Linked DNA regions of Homo sapiens: all the other regions are linked to region 2. The links come from fine-mapping of genetic effects on plasma protein levels. A gene starts in region 2. Each other region holds a variant in brackets. All regions are shown on one strand. Distances are between the middles of the regions.

What was found. PIP is the chance, under the fine-mapping model, that this variant and not a neighbour inherited with it causes the effect. The UK Biobank Pharma Proteomics Project read protein levels with antibody pairs (Olink). The fine-mapping took linkage between variants from a reference panel, not from the people measured, so its PIPs are less certain.
Region 1: its variant is fine-mapped to the plasma level of the CCN5 protein (UK Biobank, PIP above 0.99).
Region 3: its variant is fine-mapped to the plasma level of the CCN5 protein (UK Biobank, PIP 0.97).

The regions. Positions count from the first base shown.
Region 1 is chr20:44,698,266-44,706,441 of GRCh38, forward strand. No RefSeq gene overlaps it. Among named protein-coding and RNA genes, the nearest start is that of CCN5, 13 kb to the right of the region's middle. RefSeq lists an enhancer at 4,532-4,611. The variant C/G (reference allele first, on the strand shown) is at 4,901.
Region 2 is chr20:44,711,504-44,719,679 of GRCh38, forward strand. It overlaps CCN5 (cellular communication network factor 5), which reads left to right and starts at 3,866. Exons shown (of 4, transcript NM_003881.4): 1 at 3,866-3,947. The coding sequence starts at 3,888. KCNK15-AS1 (KCNK15 and WISP2 antisense RNA 1) reads right to left here. Exons shown (of 5, transcript NR_132377.1): 4 at 5,122-5,290; 5 at 359-485. LOC124904911 (a long non-coding RNA gene) reads right to left here and starts at 3,271. Exons shown (of 2, transcript XR_007067598.1): 1 at 2,438-3,271. RefSeq lists a silencer at 3,165-3,459.
Region 3 is chr20:44,723,373-44,731,548 of GRCh38, forward strand. It overlaps CCN5 (cellular communication network factor 5), which reads left to right. Exons shown (of 4, transcript NM_003881.4): 3 at 1,366-1,620; 4 at 3,715-4,439. The coding sequence ends at 3,935. The region is part of intron 3 of KCNK15-AS1 (KCNK15 and WISP2 antisense RNA 1); the gene reads right to left. Among named protein-coding and RNA genes, the nearest start is that of CCN5, 12 kb to the left of the region's middle. RefSeq lists an enhancer at 3,337-3,862. The variant C/T (reference allele first, on the strand shown) is at 4,143.

The DNA.
Region 1 (8,176 bases), 13 kb before region 2:
GCCCATGCATTTAGCGCACAATTGCTCTCTGCGGGCAATGGCCATTCATCTCCAACTGGGATGTTTATTCATCCTCTTTAGATACCATCTACAGAGGAGACCCAGAGGAAGAAGAGGGGCTCACAGGCTGGCCAAAAGCAGGTGATCTTCCTCTGGGGACCTGATGCTCTCACAAAGCCTGGGGCCTTCTGTCCTGCCCTGGGGTGGAGACAGAAGACTCCTTCCCAGACGAGTGACCTTTAGGGTTTGTTATGAATAGAGATTCCTTCTGGGGAACGTGATGGCTGATGCTGGGAACCCGGGTCCCCAGATTTAACCCCTAGGAATGTGGAGAGGAATCTCCAGACCTCCACCCAGGAGGCCAGCTCTCCCAGCCACCCAGGCCAGCCAGAAGAGGGTGGTTCTAAGCAGCTCTTCCAGTTATTGGACCACTGGGAGGTGGACTGGAACCTTCCATGTCCAGGCTGGGAGGCAGCTCCTCAGAGTAAAAATAACTCTAGGCTTCAAAATCCTGGGGTCTGCCTCTTCCTCCCCAGCTATGTGACATTCACTGGACAGGTGCCTCATGTGGGGGGACTTTGGTTTTCACATCAATCTAATGGGACTAAATATTATACCAACCTCTCAGCAGGGCTGGGACTAGGGTGAAGCCAGCCAGGTGCTCAAGGCATAACATTTAGGGAGGTGCTTGTTCTGAGGCGCCAACCCTGCACTTGCTCAGGCCCCGGGGTGAGGGCCTCGGTAGATTTGCACCCTGGTCACCTTGCTGCCTCAACCTGGCCCCAGCCCTGCCTCCCAGGGTTGTCGTGGGAAGGAAATGAGATATTGTATACAAAGCATGTTAGCACAGCATGTAGCATGCCCTTAGTGCTCACTTGTGGGGAAAATTCTGTTATTGTTCTTTTTTTTTTTTTTTTTTTTTTTTTTTTTGAGAGAGAGTCTCGCTGTGTCACCCAGGCTGGAGTGCAGTAGCACGATCTTGGCTCACTGCAACTTCTGCCTTCCGGATTCAAGTGATTCCCCTGCCTCAGCCTCCTGAGTAGCTGGATTGCAGGTGTGCACCATCATGCCTGGCTAATTTTTTTTTTTTTTTTGAGACGGAGTCTCGCTCTGTCGCCCAGGCTGGACTGCAGTGGTGTGATCTCGGCTCACTGCAAACTCCGCCTCCCGGGTTCACGCCATTCTCCTGCCTCAGCCTCCTGAGTAGCTGGGACTACAGGTGCCCACCACCACGCCTGGCTAATTTTTTTGTATTTTTAGTAGAGACAGGGTTTCACCGTGTTAGCCAGGATGGTCTCGATCTCCTGACCCCGTGATCCGCCCGCCTCGGCCTCCTAAAGTGCTGGGATTACAGGCGTGAGCCACCGCACCTGGCCAATTTTTGTATTTTTAGTAGAGACGGGGTTTCGCCATGTTGGCCAGGCTGATCTAGAACTCCTAATTTCAAGTAATCCACCTGCCTAGGCCTCCCAAAGTGCTGGGCTAGGATTACAGGCGTGAACCACCGCACCCAGCCTGTTCCTATTATTTTTATTGACTGCCTTTCTGAGGTTGGCTGGGCCTGTTTCCCAGCAGTGGCCCTGCCTTGGACCTCTTGCCATGGCCTTCGTCTCTCCCTCCACTTGTACATATTATACCCTTTTTATTATTTATCCCCTTGTAGCATGGTTTGATTCCCATTATTTACTGGTTCCTTGTCCCATGTCTCCTCCTCTGTGTCGACAGCCTGGAAACAATGATTGCTAATATTTACCAAGTGCTCACCATGTGCCAAGCCCTGGGCTAAGCATTTACATGCTGGATTTCATCTCATCTTTACAATGATCCTATGAGGTAGGGACTATGATTATACCCATTTTTCAAATGAGGAAATGGAGGCACTTAAAAATTGAGTAACTTGCCCAAGGATGCATTGTTAGAAAAGGATGGAGCTGAGGGTAGAATCAAGATGGCTTAATCCCTAAAACCCAAGGGATGGAACCCAGAACACTGCCTCTTCCACTCTTCACCAGCTTCTGCCCTGCAGGGTACACGCAGATGGCTCCAAGCAGGGGCCCCATTGCTCACTGGGGGAAACTGGCCTCCCTGAGCTAAGTCAGGTCCTGGGCAGAGGGACAGATGCTCTCTGTGCATCTCTAGGCCACAGCAGGGCGTTTCCAAGTCCTTCCCAGACCAGACGGCGGCTTCTGCTGTAGGCTATAGTAATAACAACAGCGTTGAGCACTCACACTGTACCAGAGCAGGGGTGGCGCCGCGCTGCACACCTGCCGCCCAGGGTCTCCACAGTCCTCACGCTGCCCTTGCATTGATTATTGTCTTTATGTGACCAGTGTGGTAGCTCAGGTGTCAAGACCTCAAGGCACCCAGCCAGGGTCGCATCTCACGTCTATGGCAGATCCAAGATCTGAACTTGGACTTGTCTGAATCCTGGATAAGCTGGGGGGTGAAGCTGGCTGCTGAGGATCCTGTGTGCCCCTCAGCCCTGTTCCCACCACCTCTGTGCCTCCTCCCTGCTGGCAGCCACTGTGGCCACAATGGGGTTAACCCCAGAGGAAGGCATTGAAGGCGCTGGGGCTGGGGTGGGAAGGAAGGCATATTTCGGGGCTCCAAGGACTTGAAGCCTAGCTGCTCCATGCCCAGGCTCTGGGACCCCCCAATACATGCACACATTGTTTAAAATGAAGTGGAACTCCAGGCAGGCAAGTTTTGATTTAGGGGAGACAGCTCCTCCATGGTAATGATACTGAGCCTTGTTATTTGAGCAAATAGGTTTTCTCCCAGCCTCTCACTCCTTTCTTTGTAATTCATCTTCCATCCTGGCCACATGCAGGCCCTGCTTGGAACTCTCTGGGGACTCCTACCCCACAGGATAGTCTAAAACCCTGCCCCGGTATTCAAGGCTGTTTGCAGATGTTCCTCAACCCCACCACCTGTTGCTCCCAAAATTCACACACCCCAGACCTGCACACCACAGTTGTTGCTATTCCACACACAGGTCGCTGGGAGCAGCGCACGGCCCAGCCCCGCCTTTCTGCAAGTGGATCCCTCTGCCTGGAAAGTCCTCCCTCCCCTCCTCTGGATCCTCCTGGGTCAGGCTGGGTGCTCCTCTGAACTCCCAGGCTGAGGGTTGCTGTGTAATTTGATACTACATTGACATTGCAGGAAGATCATGTATGGCTGAGTAGCTAAAAATGCAGGCTTTGAACTTGGATGTGGGTTCAGCCTCAGCTGTATCTCCCGCCAGCTGTGGGACATTGGGCTGGCGTCTCTGAGCCTCAGTTTGCTTCTCTGAACATAGAATGATACGCCCTACTCCATTAAGGTGCTGAGGGTGAAGGAAACCACGGGCTCAGTGTGGGCAGCTTGGCCAGGGCTCCAAGCGCATCGGGTGTTCATGTAGTCCTTCTAGTGCCAGGCGGTCATTAGCAACTTGGTGCCAGTCTCTGAGCTGGTCTCCAGGACGGAGCAGTGGAGGGACCATGTAGCCCCTGCTCCCACAAACACAGACATTGGACAGCCAATTAGTTACCCCAGTTCGTTACCATGGAGACTATAATTAGGGATTATAGTCACCCTGCCCAAGCGCACAGGCCTCACCTCCCATCCTTGCCTTAGCTTTGAAGCTCCCTGGAGCAGGATCTAAACTGGATTTGTCTCTGTAACCTCAGTTCCTCATTATTCATGGTCGGAATGCTCAGCAAACGTTTAAGTGGAAGAGATTTCCATAACAAACACTTGGGAGTTCAGAGGAGCACGCGGTCCAACCTGAACAGAGCAGGAGGATCTCAGAGGAGGGAGGCCACTAGGTAGGATGCGGCGGCACTAAGGGTAGCACTTAGTTTGTGACAAGGACTGTTCCAAGCACACCACTTGGATCATCTATTAAATTCTCACTTATTTATTTATTTATTTTAAAATTGTGTTTATTTATTTATTTATTTATTTATTTATTTGTTTGTTTTGAGATGGAGTCTCGCTTTCCAGGCTGGAGTACAGTGGCACAATCTTGGTTCACTGCAGCCTCTTCCTCCCAGGTTCAAGCGATTTTCCTGCCTCAGCCTCCCAAGTAGCTGGGATTACAGGCATGTGCCACCACGCCCGGCTAATTTTTGTATTAAGAGATGAGGTTTCGCCATGTTCACCAGGCTGATCTCGAACTCCTGACCTCAAGTGATCTGCCCGCCTTGGCCTCCCAAAGTGCTAGGATTACAGGCTTGAGCCACTGCGCCCAGCCAGTGATCACTTATTTAGATCACTTACTAAAATCATTTAATTATGTCAACACCTCTGTGAAGTATGTACTGTTATCACCATTCCCATTTCATAGATGGGGAAACTGAGGCACAGAAAAGCTAAGTAAACTGCTCAGAGTTACAGAGCCTGCGAGGGCCACAGCCAGAATTCAAACCCAGGCCATCTGCCTCCACAGTCCACTTTCTATGTCCCTCTCCCGAGATGATGTCCCTTTCCCAGGGGTGTCTGGAAAGGGTCTGGCCCCTGGTCCCAGCTCAAGCAGCTGTCCAGGGAAGCCTGAAGACCTGGCCCATCTCCACTGCCCACCGGGCTTCTCTGCGCTCCACTTCCCAGGTGGACTGTGGAGGCAAATAAGGCCCCAGCTGCAGCCTCTGAAGACTCCTGCCAAGCTGGCACTTTGAGGCCTGGGGGTGTCCCAGGGGATCCCAGCCCAGCAGCTGGGCTGACCTCAGGGCCAGTGTTTCCGTAAACACCCGGAGAGCCAGCCCCACGTGGTTGATCTGTGGGTTGCTGGCCAAGAGGGGCTGAGGTTTGGCTGACCTCGTGCGGTTTCTTTCAACAAGGCTACTTCCACCCCCTCCGCCTGGCTGGGCTTCCAGTAATGAAGTGTTTTCTCTGGGGCTAGGGGAGCTGATGGGGCTGGTGG[C/G]GTGGGGCACTGGGGTCTTCCTGTCCCACGTGCCCTCCACCCTGGGCTTCTGGAAGCTGGTCTAGATGCCCCTAGCTGCCGCCTGGGCAGCCCATATGCCCACGCCGGTCCCTGATAGTGAACTGGCCCGTAAGGGGACCAGGTCTCGGGATCTGAGCATGGAGCAGGGGCTGCGCCCAGGAGATAGGGTGTGGCTAGACTTTCCCCTGCTGGTCCTTTCCGGGGATCTGAGGGGAAACTTCTCCTGGGGACACACCCGGGTAGCTCAGAGATGGAAGAAAAGGTCTCCATTACAGCTGCCACCTCTTCCCCACCCAAAGAGAGTGTCCGCAGGGGGCCGTGGGGCAGGAGTGAGTACTGAAGGAATACTAACCACGATCACTGCTACCATCTCCTGAATGTCACTGCCCCAGCCCTTTAATTCTCACAACAAACCTTGGAAACTGAGGCTTAGAGAGAGGAAGTGGCTGGCCCAAGGTCACATAGTGAGTAAATGAGCAGAGCTTCTCCCCCTTTCCCTTGAATCACCTCTATCTTCCTGTCCAGATGCCAGGCAGCAGGAACTAGCAGGTGCTTTTGGGTCATCTTTTAAGAGGCAATATAGCACAATGAGTGAGAGCAGGGACTCAAGGGCCAGCCACCTGGGTTCAAATCCCAGCTCTGCTTCCTACTGGCTATGTGACCTTGGGCAAGTCACTCAACTTCTTGGTTCCTCAGTCTCCCCACCTGTATAATGAGGATAATAATGATGCCTCCTTTAGGGGGTTTCTGTGAGGATTGCATATACACGTGACACATAATAAGCCCTGTGCCATGCTAGTTATCCCAGCCTCTCACTCTTCCCATTGAAAAGGTGAAGACACAGACCCAGAGATGGAGGCAAATTCTGCAGGGGTCATGCCCGGGGCAGAGCATGGTTCAGCTATGTCTCCTATGGTGCTGCCAAGGAGCCACCATGGGCTTGAGCTGAGAGGAGCCACCTGGCACCGGACACGTGACCTCCTCGAGGGAAGGGAGGCTCTGCAGAGAGCAGGGGATGGTGGAGGAGCCTGGCTTTATCTTCCATCCTTCAGGAGCGGGGAAGGGCAGTGTCAGAGCCAGGAGAGGAGAGAAGCGAATGAACGTGCTGTGTGAGCTCCAGTCAGTCCCTACTGACTCTGGGCCTGTCACTCCTGCTGAGGGACTCGGGTGTTTGGACTTTTAGACTTGGAGGGGCTCCTCGGTGGGGCCTTGGGGGCTGCTCTGGGTGAGGGCTCTCACCATTTGCTTCATCCCAAACCACTGTCCTTGGGCCTGTTTTAAATATTAGAGTGTAGCATGGGGTTTTGCTGCTCTAACAAAGGGTCAGCCATCTTGAGAAGGAGGCTCTGTGATGAGCAGGGAATGGGGCTCCCCTGCCCCCCCGAGACCCTGGGGCCCAAGCTGATGACTGGCCAGTGACTCACTCCCTTCTCAGCATGTCCTGTCATCCCATGACTGGGAGCCCCTCGGGGGTGGCTCCTAACCAAGGTCCCCCTGACCAAGGCCTCCCCCCACCCTCCCCCTAACACACATAGAGACTGGGAACAATTAACTCCCTCCTAAGGCCAGACCAGATGTTCACGTGGGCATTGGTTTTGTTGACCACATGTGACTCAGGAGCTCCCTCAGAGCTGGAAGAGTCCCAAGAGGCTAAAAGGGCAACCTGTCACGTCACAGCTGGGAAACTGAGTCCCAGAGAAGCCAGGTGAGTTGCCTAACATCCCTCAGGGGTAGAAGGGAGGAAGGAACCTGGAGTTCCCATGCCTGACCCAGAGGCTTTCTACCTCTCCAAATAGTTCTCGGATGTGCCCAAGGCCTCAGTCCCCATTCCTACCTCCAGTTGCAAATGTCCTCCCCAACTACACAGAGCCTCTCAGCTTCATCCCACCCCACCTCCAACTGGCTCTCATGGTTTCATCCAGGCTCAGCTACTTGCAGCTCCCCAAATAGCTCCTGCTGTCAGGCCACCTCCAGGCCTTTGTACTCTCCTGCTGCTCTGTTTTATTTTCCTCTTCACCTGGACAACTCCTAATCTTGCTCCAAGACTCATCTCAGGTGTCACCTTCTCCAGGAAGCCTTTCAAAACCACCTCCTCCACCTCCCAGGCTGGGTTAGGTCCTCCATCTCTTCACCCTCAGTACCTAGTATCTCCCACTTACTGTGCTGGAATCATCTCTTTGCTTGTCTCTATATTGCCCTCTAGTCTGTGAGCTCATTGTGGACAGAGACCTTAGTTTTTATTCTTAATAGTAGGGAATGACCTATTACATTCGGTGTTTGCTGAATGAATGCATAAGTGGATGGATGGATGAATGAATGAATGGTTGGATGGAAGAATAGATACATGGATGGATGGATTGATGGATGGATGGAATGAGTGACCAAATGGTAGATGAATGGACAAATGGACCGACAAACATGGAAGGATGGATGGATGGACAGATGGATTGATGGACAGGTGGATTGATGGACAGGTGGGTCGATGGGCAGGTGGATGAATAAATCAGGCAGATAATGGCATCTGTAGGGACTCAGACAGTGAGGGCTAAGTCCCTGGAGCCTGGATATCCTGACTGATGAAGGTGCTCTTGGATGGGAAGGGAATAACCTAACCTGTTGTCTTCCTACTCCAAGAGATATTTGGTCCAGAACAAAGCCACCCCTGCCCTGGTGCCTGCTCCCTTCTGACCAACAGGTTCCAACTCAGTGGGGTCTCCTGAACTCTGGTAACTCATCTGACACCAGAGCCTATAGGAATCACCCTGTCTCTGACATTCAGGGATTCTGCATTCCTGAGGCCCTCCCTCCCTGCCTCTCTTCAGGTCAGAGCTGCCGCCCCATAAATGCTTTCAAGCATAGAAACATACACCCCTAGAGCCAGGAAGTTGTAAAAATGATGGGATTCACCCCTCTACCATTTTTGCAGATGAAGAAACTGAGGCTGAGCAAGGCCAAGAAACTTGCTTAAGGACACACAGCAATAGAGCTGGGATAAGAGCTTGGGTCTTTCAATTCGTTTATTCGTTCATACAGCAAGTATGTATCTAGCGCCTAAAGTGCCAGGCTCAGTGCCTATTCCCGGGCATGCTAGGCCTGTGCATAAGCTTTCATGTTAATTTAAAAGCTATTTCCATCCTCCATATGACCTCCTCCAGCTCCCCAGCAGGCTGGTCTATGCCTCACTAGCTGCATGCCTGGCATGATCCCTATGACAACACCCTCTCCCAGCAAATGAGGACCACTTCATTGTCAGGA
Region 2 (8,176 bases):
CACCGCTCCTGCCACACCCACTCATGCTGAACTGTGTGTGCAAGCTCCATCCCTCACACTTCATCACCAAACACCCTTGATGATGACGCCTGCTTCCTGATCTGGCCAGGCCCCAGGGCCCCTACTGCCCACACTTTCCCATCCTCAGTTATCAGACAGAAAAAGTTCCAAGAAAAATCCATGCTCTGACTCAGAGGGCCCTAGGTGGGCATAGCACTCTGCCTCGTTCTTGCCACCTCCCTGCCCCGTATGGCCCTGTCTTCTTCACCATACGTGGCACCCATGGCCCACCTCACCTCCTCATTGTCAAGGTCTCCTTGCTCTGCTATGGACATGGCTGGGACCAGCGTGTCTCCCTCCAACTCTCTTCCTCACACCTCCTCATTTCTCCCGTCTTCCTTCTTGCCTCAGAGATAGAAGTGGCTTAAAACTGTTCCTTTCAGGAACAACTAATCAGTGGCCACAGAGGTCAGAATAGCGGGTACCTGGAGGACAGAGGGTAGAGTCTTGGAAGGGGCATAAGGAAACTTCTGGAAGTGTAGCTTGACCTGGGTGATTATCACATGGGTATATACAGTCATGTATATACATATGTCAAGAGTCAAAATTAGCCAAACATGCTGCCTCATGCCACCAGCTACTCAGAAGGTTGAAGAGGGAGGATCCCTTGAACCCAGGAGGCTGAGGCTGCAGTGAGCCATGTTCATGCCATTGCACTCTAGCCTGGGAGACAGAGTGAGACTCTGTCTCAAAAAAAAGAAAGAAAGAAAGGAAAGAAAGAAAGAAAGAAAGAAAGAAAGAAAGAAAGAAAGAAAGAAAGAAAGAAAGAAAGAAAGAAAGAGTTGTCAAGCTCTACACTTCATATTAGTGCACTTTAAGCACTTTTCTGTATATACATTACCTCTCAACTTAAAAAACATTATCACAGAGAGCTCTATGGACAGTAGCAGAAATAAACAGCATCAAAAACTGAAACTTGGGTGTTGGAGTCATATGAACCCGCACTGAAAACCTGGCTCTGTTTTCTAGCTGTGTAGCTTTAGGCAAGTTACTTAACCTTTCTGAACCTCACTTTTTTCAATTGAGATGTGGATCATGAGGATTAGAAATGCTGCTTTTTATAAACAGTGCTTAGCACAAGGGCTGGATCTTGCTGGGTGCTATACACAATTGCTTTTATTTTTATTAATATCAGTGGCCTAGGGAGGACAGGAAAGTCGGAGTGACCTTTCCTGGATGCAGGCAATAACGGGTGGGGGGCCTACAGAATTTAAAGATAAAATAAAACTGATGAGAAGTCAGTCTGCTTTTATGATCACTGTGCAATGGCAGATCTAAATAATTTCAGTGGTAAAATACTTTGTCCTGAAAATACCCTTTATTGATCTAAGTTCTAACAATTGGTGCAGTAACTGTTGGGGTTTAATAATGTATATGTAAAGCTTCAAATCAGCACATTTTTATTCTTATCCTTTAATAAACATATTCTACATGGAAGTCAACTTGACTTGGAGAACTTTAAGAATCCTATAGTTGCCCCCAGAGCATGTGGTCTCAGGAACACACATCAGTTGAGAGTAAGCTCCTCACAACTCTGGAATCTTCCAAGCTTGCTTTGAATGCATTCCTGTCTCCACCGTCCAGCATTCATATTTCTGCATTTATTTTTATTATTATTTTGTGTGTGTGACAGAGTCTCTCTCTGTCGCCCAGGCTGGAGTGCAGCGGCAAGATGTCGGTTCACTGCCACCTCCACCTCCCGGGTTCAAGCAATTCTCCTGCCTCAGCCTCCTGAGTACTTGGGACTATAGGTGTGCACCCACCACGTCCGGCTAATTTTTGTATTTTTTTTTTTAGTAGGGACGGGTTTCACCATGTTGGCCAGGCTGGCCTTGAACTCCTGATCTCAGGTGGTTCTCCCACTTTGGCCTCCCAAATTACAGACGTGAGCCACCGGCCCAGCTGTATTTCTGTGTTTAAACAGTAGAGTGAAATCAACTATGAACGCAGAATGATGGGAAAGATGACGATAAGGGTATTTCAATTTTGTCATTTTACGAAACTACTTGGAGTTTTGATTTGTATTTACAGTTTTTAAAAGAGTAAAACAGTGTGAACTGTGAATGGTAATGATTTTGTTTGGTAAGTGCAAATTTTAATTCATACATGAAAAATATTTGTTTTGTTTCATGATTATTACTGAAAATAATTTTGTACTATGAAGGAAGAGGGGTGTTAAAAATGATCCACTGTGGATGTAAATTATTCTAGGCATGCTTCTGACTAAAACATTAGCATTTCCACAAGAATCCCAAAAAATAAAACAAAATTTAAAAGATCCCTTCTGTTTCTTTTCCTCCAAGTTTCCAGACCCCCATCTCCACCCTGGCCACCTCTTCCTGCCATAAATAATCAAATCCCACACTTTCATCTTCACCTTCCGTTTCCATTGCCTCTTCCGATGGGACAGCACCCGTGGGGAATCTCCTCCATGCTCACAATCCCCGTCTTGCCACTATATCAAGTCACACTTCTTCCTCACCAATCGCCCATTCTGGAACCTCTGCTATCCAGCTAGATCACTTTGAGGTTTGGACAACTACTGGTGGAGGTAATGGGGGCCCCAGACAGCCCTTGACATCACCTCTTTTATCTTTGCCAAATTCTACAAACAAAGCCCATGTCTTTCTGTCCCCCGCCCCCATGGCTGGCACATAGTAGATGTCCCCAAATCTTGGTGATGTGAACTTGTGTGTCTCACCCTTCACAGACATCACCATTTCCCGTTGCACAGAAGGCTCCACTCATACCAGGCGCTTTGGCTCCCAGAATAAGCAGGCTATCATGCTATGTCCGACATCTAGGCGTTGGTACGTACTGTTCCCTTGGCCTGGAACATTCTGCCCTCTCTCACCCTCTCTTTTCTTGGCTTTCTGAAATGGCACCTCCATCAGAAAGTGTCCCTCACTCTTGGTCTGAGCAAGGGACCTTGCCTGGTATTCCTGAACTTCCACCTGTTTTCCCTCTGTTTTCTCCCTCTCTGGGCCTTGTCCTCAGGTCAGTGTTGTGCCTCCAGCTCCTGCAGAGGCGAACTCAGAGGCGGCCGAATGAAACCAAATGGATTTGGCTTGACCCCATCATCTAGCGGTGCCCAGCAAGCGCTGGCACATAGTAGGTCCAGCCTGCCCGGACTCGCCCACCACGGGCCCCCTTCCAGAGCCGGGAGGCAGGCCAAGGGAGGCCCCTTATTGCCAAGAGCAAACAGGCCGCCCAGGGAAGTTTTGCTCTGGGTCACACCCACCTCTGGGTGGCTGCCAATCTGCCTGCCAGAAACCGCAGGCTGGGCCGCGGCTACCCAGAGTCAGGGCCACGGAGCTTAGGAGACCTTGGGTCAGCTCTGCAAAGGGGTTGTTTACTGAATGCTTCTGGTATCTGCAGCCCCGCTGGGGTTCGGACAGGGGGTCTGGAATAGGGCTTCACAACTACAGCAGGGCTAGGACCCTCTTGGGCTGGAAGGAGCTGGAGAGGCCTCTGCAAGCTGTCACAGGCTCTTGGTGCTGGCACTGGCTCAGGCTTTCACACACACACACGCGCACACACACACACACACACACACGGACAGGCACCCCCTTGGTGGCCTTCACAGTTTCACCTTCAGGTAAATGGGCTCATCCTTTGAGCCATGAGGATGGGAAGCGAAGCAAGGAATGAAAAAGCTAGTGTGTTTGTGTGTGTGTGTGTGTGTGTGTGTGTGTGTGAGCGCGCGCGCGCGCGCGCGTGTGTACTCGTGCGTGTGCCTGTGTGTGCCTGGGAGTGACCTCACAGCTGCCGGAACATAAAGACTCACAGGTCCGCCTCCCAGGCTCAAAGCTGGCTCTGCAGGGGACATGAGAGGCACACCGAAGACCCACCTCCTGGCCTTCTCCCTCCTCTGCCTCCTCTCAAAGGTAAGGAGGCCCGGGCCCTGGAATGCACTGCTGACTATTTGGGTGTGGAGGGGGTGGGGATGTAAAATCGCAGCCAAGGACCCCCTTGGCAGAATTCCTCCAGGGCCCCACATTGGGCACAGTCTGGCCCCCATGCCTAAGCAGGGCTTCTCTCCCTGGAACTCAGAGCTGCCTCCGGCCAGCCCTGCTGTGTGACCTCAGATATGTGTCTTGCCTTCTCTGGGCCTCAGCATCTTCCCAGGTGAAGGGTATACAGTTTGTGAGGCCTCTGTGAAGACCATTCATGATCATTCATCAAACTTACCAGGCAAATTGAAGAGGACTTTAATGTATCCTCATTATGAATGGGGGCACTCAAGACATGACATGCTTGGCCTAACTCTGAGCCAGCATTTGGATGGATGCCTAGCTGATTGGAAGGTTCATTCTGCAAGGGCATCAATGCTGTTGGACTCTTAGGCAGTGAGTGACCCGCCCGCCCTAGCTAGAGGGGAACAGGAGACACCTCTGTGGAGTAATGGCCTTATCCCTGAATGCTGCATGGGACATTCACCAAAGAGCCTGTGGGACATCTACCTTGTCTAACATGCACAACAATCCCATAAGGAATTTTCAGTTAAGTGAGGCTCAGAAAGGGTAAGCAACTTGCAACCCCAGTTTTCAGTCAAGTGAGGCTCAGAAAGGGTAAGCAACTTGCCCAAAGCCACACAGCAAAGAAAGGTCAGAGCAATAGAGGAGAGCCATGGTGGAGCCCAGAATGACATGGATGTAGGGGGAGAAGCACTCCAGTCTGTGCCTCCCCAAGCCCAAACTGGACCAAGGCCACAGCTGCTAAGCCTTGTCATCCCCTCGGCAAATGCTGAGTTCCCAGAGCCATGGAATCGGCCCCACCACAAGCCACGATCTCACTGTATTTTCACGCTCCTTTGAGGAGCACGGGCAGGAGCTTCTCTCCCTCAGGCTCCAAGTCTTCGTGCCTGGGAAGCCTGAGAACCACGCTGGCATCCTGTCCTGCTGTTTGTTCTTCCAAAGGGGATGGGTAGGGCATGATGCCAGTGTGGGTGGCTTGGGTAGTTGGAATAGGGGACTTGGGGCTCTAGGAGGGAGAAGGGGCCCAGGATTATACGAGAACAAAGTAAAGCTGTCCTAGACTTGCCATTAGGGTGAGACTTACGGGACCATTCTTCCCTGGTCCCAGGAAGCAGGGACTGCACAGAAACACAGGGACTTAGTCACCACAACATGGAAAGCCACAGCAACCCTCAGAGGGAGAACTGTAAGTCTTCCAGGCTGGCCGTTGGCTCCGGGGCTCCTGGCTGTGGACCGGGGCAGGAGGCAGACACCTGGACACAAGCAAAATCACATTGATCAAGGACTGGCCAGAACCTCATTTAATCTCCATCATCACTCAGAAACAGGTTGTCTCTACTCCAGTTTACAGAGGAGAAAACTGAGCTTCACCTCCACCTTCCAAAGCCGTTTGTCCACATGTTCAGTCACGTAGCAAGTCACTGGCAGAACTTGAATCTCAACTCTTGCCCAAAAAACTCCATGCCCAGTACTCCTGCCCCAGATATCATGAGCCTTGCCCCCCACCACCAGATATCACAGCAAGGCCCTGGGGAAACTGAGGCACAATGGGACAACTTGAGTTTGGGCCTTGGATGTCAACTTGAACTTGGATGTCAATCCTGATTCTGTCTCTTACTGGCTGTGTTACTACACGGTTTGAGCTCCAGTTTTCTCATCTTTAAAATGGGCATAATGATGGCACCTCACATTGGAGGGGTAAATGAGACAACAGCACTTGGCACATGACATACATATGGTATCACATGAGATAATTGTACACTAGAATAGTTGATATCATTAATAGCCTCTCCTGGGTATCGGGGCCTACAGAGTCCTGCCCCCTGACAAGCATGGCCAGTAGAGGGGTCCACAGTGGGAGCCAAGGTGCACAGCTGCTGGTCTATTTCCTGGCACTCCTGTTTTCAGGTGGGAGGGACCTGAGAGTCATTTCTGACAGTCCTCCCTCCATTGCCCACAAGCCAAGGGAGCTGAACCTCTGACTTAGAAGGGAACCCAAAAGCCTAGACCGTTTCTATGTGAATCACCTGTGGATTTATGAAAATGCAGATTCGGGCTGGGCGTGGTGGCTCATGCCTGTAATCCCAGCACTTTGGGAGGCCGAGGTGGGTGGATCATGAGGTCAGGAGTTTGAGACCAGCCTGGCCAGCATGGTGAAACCCCGTCTCTACTAAAAATACAAAAAATTAGCTGGGCATGGTGGCATGCACCTGTAATCCTAGCTACTTGGGAGGCTGAGGCCTCCCAAGAATTGCTTGAACCTGGGAGGCGAAGGTTGCAGTGAGTCGAGATCGTGCCACTGCACTCCAGCCTAGGTGACAGAGCAAGACTCCATCTCAAAAAAGAAAAAAAAAAAAAAGAAAGAAAAAGAAAAGAAAATGCAGATTCGGATTTATTATATAAAAATTCAGCTTCGGATTTATAGAGGGGCTCCAGATGCTGCCTCTCTGACAAGCTCCTAGATGACGCTGCTGCTGCTAGTTCAGACCACACCTTGAGGGGCGAGGCTAGGCCATCGTCTCTAGAATCTGAACAGCCTGCAGCGATGGGATCCACTCCCTTGTGAGGCAGCCAGACACCTAGCTCCGTGTGTCCATCTGCTACTCAGTGCTGTCTCAGTGGGGGCTGTGATCGCCTCCTACTTTGTGGCCCCCACCAGAGGCTGGTCAGCCAGTTTGCAATGGCTCCTAGTGGCCGGCGTGGGAGTTGCCGGGAACTGAAAGCAGGTTTGCAGGATTGTGGGTAGTGGGGGCACTGGGCGGGGCAGAGGGTGAGGCAGAGCAAAGGGGTCATTGCCTGCTTTGGGGCTGCACAGGAGATATGAGGTCATTAATTCCATCATTATAAACTGCAAGCCTCCATTCCTCTAGATGAAACCCTCATCCCCTAAGGATCCTACTAAACTCAAACTTGGCCCCCCAAAGATGGGGCCACTGGAAGCATCTTGAATTATACTTCCTTCTTGGTCCCCACCTTCAAATGGGCAGACAGGGAGCTCACGGCACCTGCTGTATGCTTTGGTTGTTTCTCTGATGTGGGTGGCGAGGGTCAGGCAGGCCACATGGGCTGATACCCTGATCCTGTCTCTGGGGAGTGGGTCCCTGGCTTACGGACACAGTCTACCCCCATCCCGTGTCCCTGAGTCCTCACTTGGGAAGCAGGACCGGGGACGCTCCCAGCCCTGAATCGAACACACTGACGTGTGCTAAGTTCCTGTCCCTCTCTGGAGCTCAGTTTCCCCATCCGTACCTGGCAGGGGGAGGAGGTTAGACTGGGGCAGAGGTGCTGAAAACCTAGCTGAGCTTCAGAAGCCACTGGACAGCTTATTAAAAATAAAGATTCCAGGTCCCTGACTCTGGGACTTCTGATTTTGTAAGCCCCAGAGTGGGTTGGGGGTCTGTATTTTCCCAAGTCTCCTGGCTGATGTGATGTACCTCCAGAGCTGGGACACATGCTGAATGGATCGAAAGGCCAAAAACATCCATGATATGGTTCAATTTATTCAGTCCTAAGATAAGTATCCGTATGCTGGAAAATGTACCAGACCCTACCATTTTCATCCTTGACTTGTTGCTTTTGCCTTTCTGTAAGCTCCCAGAGGGCTGGGGCTGAGCCCTCTGCCACCATTAACAACAAGGATCATCAAAGCTAAGTGCAGTGAGCGCCTACTGCATGCCAGGCCCTGTGCTGAGGGTTTGCTGTGCAGCATTTCATGTACTCCTCAGAGCAATCCTCTGAGTTAGATACTTTGAGGAAACTGAGGCTCAGAATGCTTAAGTAACTTCCTCAAGGTCACTCAGCTAATAAGGGGCAGAATTAGAACTGGAAGTCTAGCCAGGTGCAGTGGCTCATGCCTATAATCCCAGCACTTTGGGAGGCCGAGGCGGGCGGATTGCCTGAGCTCAGGATTTCAAGACCAGCCTGGGTAACATGGTGAAACCCCATCTCTATTAAAAATACAAAAATTGCCAGGCATGGTGGTGGGCGCCTGTAGTCCCAGCTACTCGGGAGGCTGAGGCACGAGAGTCGCTTGAACCCAGGAGGTGGAGGTTGAAGTGAGGCTGGGATCGCGCCACTGCACTCCAGCCTGGGCAACAGAGCCAGACTCTGACTCCAAAAATAAAAATAAAAAATAAAGA
Region 3 (8,176 bases), 12 kb after region 2:
GCTGTAAGTCCCCTAGCTCATCTAATCCCCCAGCAGCCCTGTGAGCCGGGTACCAAGGCTCAGAGAGGCAAAATAACTTGCCCCAGGCCCCACAAGTGGGAGCCAGAGTTGGAACCTAAGTATGTGTGGTTTTGGTTCTGAAACCCCTGTGTGTGTACAGACCTACTGGAAGGTTTTCTCAGAAGATCTGGGAGAACTTGTTTGCTAATGAGTCCTTTCCCCAGACGTAGCTCAGTGGCCACCCAGGTCTCACACACACGCTGTTTCCCGTCTGCACTTCCTGAGCAGCTCACACGCTTCACCAGCGCTCTTACTTCATTCTGTCTTGGAGATGATGCCCTCACACCCGTCCCCCTTTCCCAAGCCCATGAGTCCCTCAAGGCAGGAACTGTCCTCTTTCTGTCTGGGAGCACAGTGGTTGGCACACAGGCGGGAAACAGTAAATATCTCTGGAATGATAAGGAGTAGGGCTATTTTATCAGGGTCTCTCATGTGCCAAGGCTTATGCCAGCTATTCACTGAAGGGGCATTCCTACAGTACTGTGTGTCGCACCTAGGCTCTGAGCCCACCGGAGGGTGCAGAGACGCACACTGGCCGCCCCAGCCCTCAAGGAGTTCATGTCCAGTGGAGGAAGTGGCAATAACACCCATATCTTGAGGGCTTCATTGAAAGAGTGTTCCCTGAGCACCTAGGCCATGCCTAGCACTGTGTGCTAGAGGGTACGGACATGTCATCCCATGGAACCTGAAGTTACGATTACTGAGCTCATCATTGCTGTAGTTCAGGCCACTCAGAGAAGTTAAGTAACTTACTCAAAGACACACAGCCAGCAAGTTAAGCCCTGACCTGACAGTGATGACAGCACAAGTGGACAACGACTTTGTTGCATGAAATCTCAGCGTGTATAGAATACTTAAACTTTATTAATATATAGTAACTATACTAATGATAATAACAGAGTAGCTAGGACCTATGGAAGGTCTCTTTTATGTTGTGATCATTACGCCTATCATTCCGAGTAGTCTCTACCACCCTGGAAAATAAGTACCATTATATCCCAGCTTGCAAATGTGGAAACTGAGGCAAGAAGAAGTGAAATCACTTGGCCCAGGTTCACAGCTAAGAAAGGGCAGAGTTTGGGGGGTCAATCCAGGCCTGTCTTCTTGCAATCCCTGTGCCGGGATCCAGGGTGCCCCAGCAGGCTGGTGGAGGGCTGGGGAGAGGTGCATATCCTGGGCTGGAGCCCTGGGCAGGGCCCAGCTACTGTGAGGCAGCTGCCTCAGGCAGCGGGATCTGGGCAGCTCTGCAGAGAAGGCTGTGCCGCTTTGCGGGTCACCGATGGGGGTGCGGTTTTTCCTCCGCAGTGGCAGAGGACGACAGCAGCTGTGAGGTGAACGGCCGCCTGTATCGGGAAGGGGAGACCTTCCAGCCCCACTGCAGCATCCGCTGCCGCTGCGAGGACGGCGGCTTCACCTGCGTGCCGCTGTGCAGCGAGGATGTGCGGCTGCCCAGCTGGGACTGCCCCCACCCCAGGAGGGTCGAGGTCCTGGGCAAGTGCTGCCCTGAGTGGGTGTGCGGCCAAGGAGGGGGACTGGGGACCCAGCCCCTTCCAGCCCAAGGTGAGCGCAGCGGTGGTCCAGGTCAGGGCAGGACTGCCTGGGGGCGCCAAGGGCCACCTAGGGGGTGGGGTGGGGGGCGGCTTCCTGGGTACCAGGACCCAGGGACACATCAGAAGCTGGGAGGGGCGGAGGCTGAGGAGGGAGATAAGAAAGAGGAGTGGAGGGCCGGGCGCTGTGGTTCACCCTTGTAATCCCAGTACGTTGGGAGGCCAAGACGGGCGGATCACCTGAGGTTAGGAATTCGAAACCAGCCTGGCTGACATAGGAAAACCCCGTCTCTACTAAAAATTCAAAAATTAGCCTAGCATGGTGGCGGGCATCTGTAGTCCCAGCTACTTGGGAGGCTGAGGCAGGAGAATCGCTTGAACCCGGGAGGCAGAGGTTGCAGTGAGCCCAGATCACACCACTGCACTCCAGCCTGGCCGACAAGCACGAAACTTCATCTCAAAAAGAGGAAAAAAGAAAGAGGAGTGGAGGGTCACCAGGCCTCCCTCTTTAAAACCAATAAACAAAAAGCCACTGCCTTTGAGATGTGTAATTTAAAACCATAAATAATTAAAAATAAAAACTGGGTGACAGAGCCGGGAGAGGAAAGGTGGGTTAGGGTATGTGAACCAAATTCTCACATTTCAGAGATATAATAGAGCTAAGCTCTTAGAATATATAATATTATCGTATTTATAATATATTGATACATATTAATATATTTAGTAATTTATTATTATTTGGGCTTACTAAAAAAGGAACTCAAAACTGAACGAGGCAAAGTGGCTGCTCTGGAATGTGGGCCGGGGGTGGGCTAGAGATGGAGAAAAGACAGTTACCTCCCACCGTCCCACTATAAATCTTCAATTTTAGAGATTTTTGTTGTTGCTGTGTTGCTTTTTGAAAATTATCACATGAATGTGACTTTCTAAAAAAGGCAACTGAAAAGAGGAGGATTGATTTCATAAATGCTGCTGCCACCCACAAGAGGTAGTCACGTGTTATGGGTCAGGTGCACGGCATCTGCAACAGCCCCGCCATCCCCTTTTTGCTGTGTGACTCTGAGAAAGTTGCTTAACTTCTCTGTGTCTCAGTTTCTCCAGCTGTAAAATGGGGACAATAAGAGCATCCACTTCATAGCGTTGTGAGAACTACTTGAGTTTGTTCAAGTTAAGCAGCTGTAGCAGTGCCTGGCACATGGTACTATATCAGAGGTAGCCGTTATTATCCCTGTGATGGAATATGATATATCCATTTAAATACATAGGAAAACACCAGTGAGTTCACCTTATGGATAAAAGCAGGATAAGAAGGTGTATTTCCAACTCGATCTCAACTAAGTGTGTCCCTATGCACGTATACAGGTATATCTACACATACACATGCATACACAGCACACACATGTGGGTAGAAATCAGGGTTTCTCAACGTCAGCACTAGTGACAATTGGGGCAAGTAATTATTTGTTGGGGGGGTTTTCCTGTGCACTGCAGGGTGCTTAGCAGCATTCCTGACTTCTACTCACTAGATACCAGTAGCATCCCCCCAGTTGTGATCACCAAAACTGTCTCCAGATATTGCCAAACCTTTCCTGGGAGGCAAAATTACCCTAGTTGAGGACTTCTAGTGTAAGACTAGAAGGAAGGACACCAAAATACTCACAGAGGGAGACTTGGAGCAGAGAAAAAGCTAGACCATGGTGAACCTGCCATCTTGTTCCTGGCACAAGAATCCTGGAATCTTTAGCATCCTTGCCACTGGGCCAAAGCACCACTCCACACAGGCTGGGCACCCCCTGCCTGTAAAATGCTGTTTATCCAAAGAGACGAGAAAACCATGGTTCACTGAGGGACCATCGTGACCAACACACTCTGGTTGCCAAATAACTAATATTTATGGAAATCTTACAAGTACCAGGTACTGTGCTAGGCACTTCATGCCCATTATTTTATTCAATGCCATCCACTGTTAAGAAATTTACATAACAAGAAACTGAGATGCAGAGAGGCTGAGCCATTTGACCAAGATTGCCGTGGCCGCTGGCAGGTGGGTTGATTGAGCTGCTGAGCCCTGGCTGCTCAGTGCTAACTCTTGTTCTTTCCCCCCTAGGACCCCAGTTTTCTGGCCTTGTCTCTTCCCTGCCCCCTGGTGTCCCCTGCCCAGAATGGAGCACGGCCTGGGGACCCTGCTCGACCACCTGTGGGCTGGGCATGGCCACCCGGGTGTCCAACCAGAACCGCTTCTGCCGACTGGAGACCCAGCGCCGCCTGTGCCTGTCCAGGCCCTGCCCACCCTCCAGGGGTCGCAGTCCACAAAACAGTGCCTTCTAGAGCCGGGCTGGGAATGGGGACACGGTGTCCACCATCCCCAGCTGGTGGCCCTGTGCCTGGGCCCTGGGCTGATGGAAGATGGTCCGTGCCCAGGCCCTTGGCTGCAGGCAACACTTTAGCTTGGGTCCACCATGCAGAACACCAATATTAACACGCTGCCTGGTCTGTCTGGATCCCGAGGTATGGCAGAGGTGCAAGACCTAGTCC[C/T]CTTTCCTCTAACTCACTGCCTAGGAGGCTGGCCAAGGTGTCCAGGGTCCTCTAGCCCACTCCCTGCCTACACACACAGCCTATATCAAACATGCACACGGGCGAGCTTTCTCTCCGACTTCCCCTGGGCAAGAGATGGGACAAGCAGTCCCTTAATATTGAGGCTGCAGCAGGTGCTGGGCTGGACTGGCCATTTTTCTGGGGGTAGGATGAAGAGAAGGCACACAGAGATTCTGGATCTCCTGCTGCCTTTTCTGGAGTTTGTAAAATTGTTCCTGAATACAAGCCTATGCGTGATCTTGTGTGTCAGGCCTGTGTTTTCTGAGAAAGCCCTCCCATTATCCGGGGCAGAATTCAGGGGCAGAGTTCTCTGTGAACCTCACAAGGTGAAATCACATGGTCTTAAAGAAAGCCAGAAGACAGGCCTTCAAGTGATCCAAGAAACCCAATTCATATTAATAATAATTAACTTTTTTATTTATTTATTTTTTTGAGATGGAGTTTTGCTCTTGTTGCCCAGGCTGGAGCTGGAGTACAATAGCACGATCTCGACTCACTGCAGCCTCCCGGGTTCAAGTGATTCTCCTGCCTCAAGACTCCTGAGTAGCTGGGATTATAGGCGCATGCCACCATGCTCGGCTTTTTTTTTTTTTTTAAATATATTTTTAGTAGAGATGGGGTTTAGCCATGATGGTCAGGCTGGTCTCGAACTCCTGACCTCAAGTGATCCGCCCGCCGCCTCGGCCTCCCAAAGTGCTGGGATTACAGGCGTGAGCTACTGCGCCCAGCCAATAATTAACATTGCTTGAGCGCCTGCTATGTGCTAGGCACTAGCACTTTATACAGACCAGTGCTTCCCAGCGTTTTTGACCAGAGAAGAGCAGGGAGAATGAAGGCTGCCTCCCAGGGACTGGGGAGCATAGCCTGAAATCAACTAACCCAAGGGTGAAATTGTTCGAAGTCTCATGTTTTATTGTTTACAAACAAAACAAAACAAAAAACAAAAACAAAAAAAAACACCCAACACCAAATACATATATTTTACATTTTCCTCCATGGTCTACCTGTGTTTGTTTAAAAAGTAAAACTGTATTTCCATTAGGATCCAAGCAGGAAATTAGAAAACACTCTTGGTATTTAAACAGGGATTTCTTCTTATTAAACTAATTTTATTAAGGTATAATTTACCCATAGTTAAATATACAGATTTTAAGCATATGGTTTAACGAGTCTTCATAAACGTACACGCTCATGTAACCAACTCCTCAATCAAGGTATAAAACATTTTCATCATCTCAGGGAGTTCCCTCTGGCTCTGTTCCAGTTATCCCCCTGCTCCCCAAGGCAACCACTGCTCTGATTTCTATCACCATAGATGAGCTTTCGTGTTCTTGAACTTCTCATTAATACAACCATACAGCAGGTACTCTATAATGAATGACGTCTTTCACTCAACATAATAAAACAAAAGGAATTTAATGAGAGGACTTAGTCACCCATCTGAGAGGCCAAGTAGGGGACCGTGTGATGCAAGAGGAGAAATTCAACACCAGACCAGCCCTCGGGGCGGAGGGGCAGAGGGAGGGCAGAGCCCAGAGCTGGCACCAGCAGGCAGAGGAAGAGGACCTGGCAAGGCTGTCTGCTGGGAGCTGCAGCCGCTAAGGAGACACAGCCTCGCAGACCTAACAAAAAGTAGATGGAGGTGGGGAGACCTGCCCTGGCTTCTGCCTGCTGCTATCCCCCAGTTTCCAGTTATGCCTCCCATGAGTCGAACCTGCTGGGAAGGTGGAAGAGAGGGGAGCCTGGGAGATGCAGGACAAGGAAGGGCAGGAGGGTTCTGAGAATGAGGGCAATTCCCAGACACAGTGTTTGTAAATTACCCACCCCAGGTACGGTTGCTGGTCACAGAGGCCCCTGCTGCCCAGCCCCCAACACTTATCTCAGGTATCACCCCCTCCAGAAACCTTAGTTTGAGAATCACATGCTGAGTTTGAGCCATGTAACCTTCACAGAGCCCCTGCATGGCAAATATAACTAACTCCAGCTCAGGGATAAGGAAACACCCGGGAAAGCGAGCTGTCTAAAAGCTGGTCTGCAGCTGGGGTGGGATGCTAGTCCAACCTGAGTTTATCTGACTCTTGAGAATGGCTGTTGGTCTCTCACAGATTGAGAATTTCCATGGGTCTGGTTCTGCAAGGATAAACCCTAAACACATTTCCAGGCAAAATTCTGATAACATCCCCCAAAACAGGGAGAACACGGACAAGAATGAGGAATGTGCACCGAGGGACTCCCATACATAAGGCTCTCTCTGCCACGCACTCTGTCCACACCACTGCACGTCATCCTTGGGACATTCCTAAAGGAAAGTGCCACTAATACTCCCTGTTTAGAGATGAGTAAACTGAGACCCAGAGTGATTAACAAGTTACCCTGGAGTCGTGGAGCTGGGACTCAGGCCCATGACCTCACAGCTGAGCCGCCACTGTGCAGTGGTAGAGTGAGTGGGCTCAGCCAACCTGCCCAGGTGTGCATCCTGGCTCTGCTATTTCCTAGTGCTGTCATCTTAGGCAAAGTACTTAACCTCCTTGTGCCTCAGTTTCCCCTTCTTTAAAATGGGGATAATGGCAATACTCAACACAGAGGATTGTTGAAAGTGTTACGTGATTTACAAAAAAACTTAGGGCCGGGCGCGGTGGCTCACACCTGTAATCCCAGCACTTTGGGAGGCCAAGACGGGCAGATCACTTGAGGTCAGGAGTTCGAGACCAGCCTGGCCAACACATCAAAACCCCGTCTCTACTAAAAATACAAAAATTAACTGGGTGTGATAGCACACACCTGTAATCCCAGCTACTCAGGAGGCTGAGGCACGAGAATTGCTTGAACCGGGGAGACAGAGGTTGTAGTGAGCCGAGATCGCACCACTGCACTCCAGCCTGGTGGACAGAGCAAGACTCTGTCTCATTAAATAAATAAATAAATAAATAAATAAATATTGGAGGCCGAAAGATTGAGGGTCATGATCAACTCAGTATACCACTGGAAGCTATATGAGTAAGCAGCAGACTATTTCTCATAAATGCAGAATGTTGGCAAACTGACAAACTGTTTCTGCCATCCAGAAGGAATGCTGAGGGCAGTCACGCTCCAAGCATAGTGTTTCTTGTGATTAGGCCTAATTGAAACCTGTTAGTAACAATATGAATCTGTGATCAATCAACCAGCTAACCAGTCATTACCTCCTCCTCCCTGCTCATTCTACCCAATAAATAGGAAGGGCTGTGGAAGCTCAGGGACTGCCTTTGCTCACTAGAAGCAGGGAGTTCTCTTCTTCTTCCCCTGGCCCTTTCCTTTACAACAGTTTCTTTTGTCTTAAGTTTTCATTTCTACATTCGTCCCCTCGTTCAGTCCTGTAATGAAGTCTCAGGCAGTAACAGTAGTAACTGCTGTAATGACGGCCTCAAGTAGTAACAGTAATAACTGTCATAGTGACAGTCTCAAGTAGTAATTGTGGTAGTCTGCAACAAAATAAAATAAAATAAAATAAATTTTAGCAACCGTTATCCTAACTCTTGGCGCTTTAGTTTTTTGATCTGTAAAATGGGAATAAATAGTAGTGCCCACCCCACAGGATGGCTGTATAAAGTGAGTACCCGGCTGTGTGCAGTGGCGAGCACGCCTGTAATCCCAGCACTTTGGGAGGCCGAGGCGGGCGGATCACCTGAAGTCGGGAGTTCGAGACCAGCCTGGCCAACAAGGTGAAACCCCATCTCTACTAAAAATACAAAAATTAGCCAGGCGTGGTGGCACGCACCTGTAATCCCAGCTACTTGGAAGGCTGAGGCATGAGAATCACTTGAACCCAGGAGGTGGAGGTTGCAGTGAGCCAAGATCATGCCACTGCACTCCAGTCTGGGCAACAGAGCAAGACTCTGCCAAAAAAAAAAAAAATAGTGAGTATCCACTCCGCAGGGGTATTGTGAGTATTAGGAAGGTAATTCCTCCATGTTCTTCAACTGAAGCTATTATTA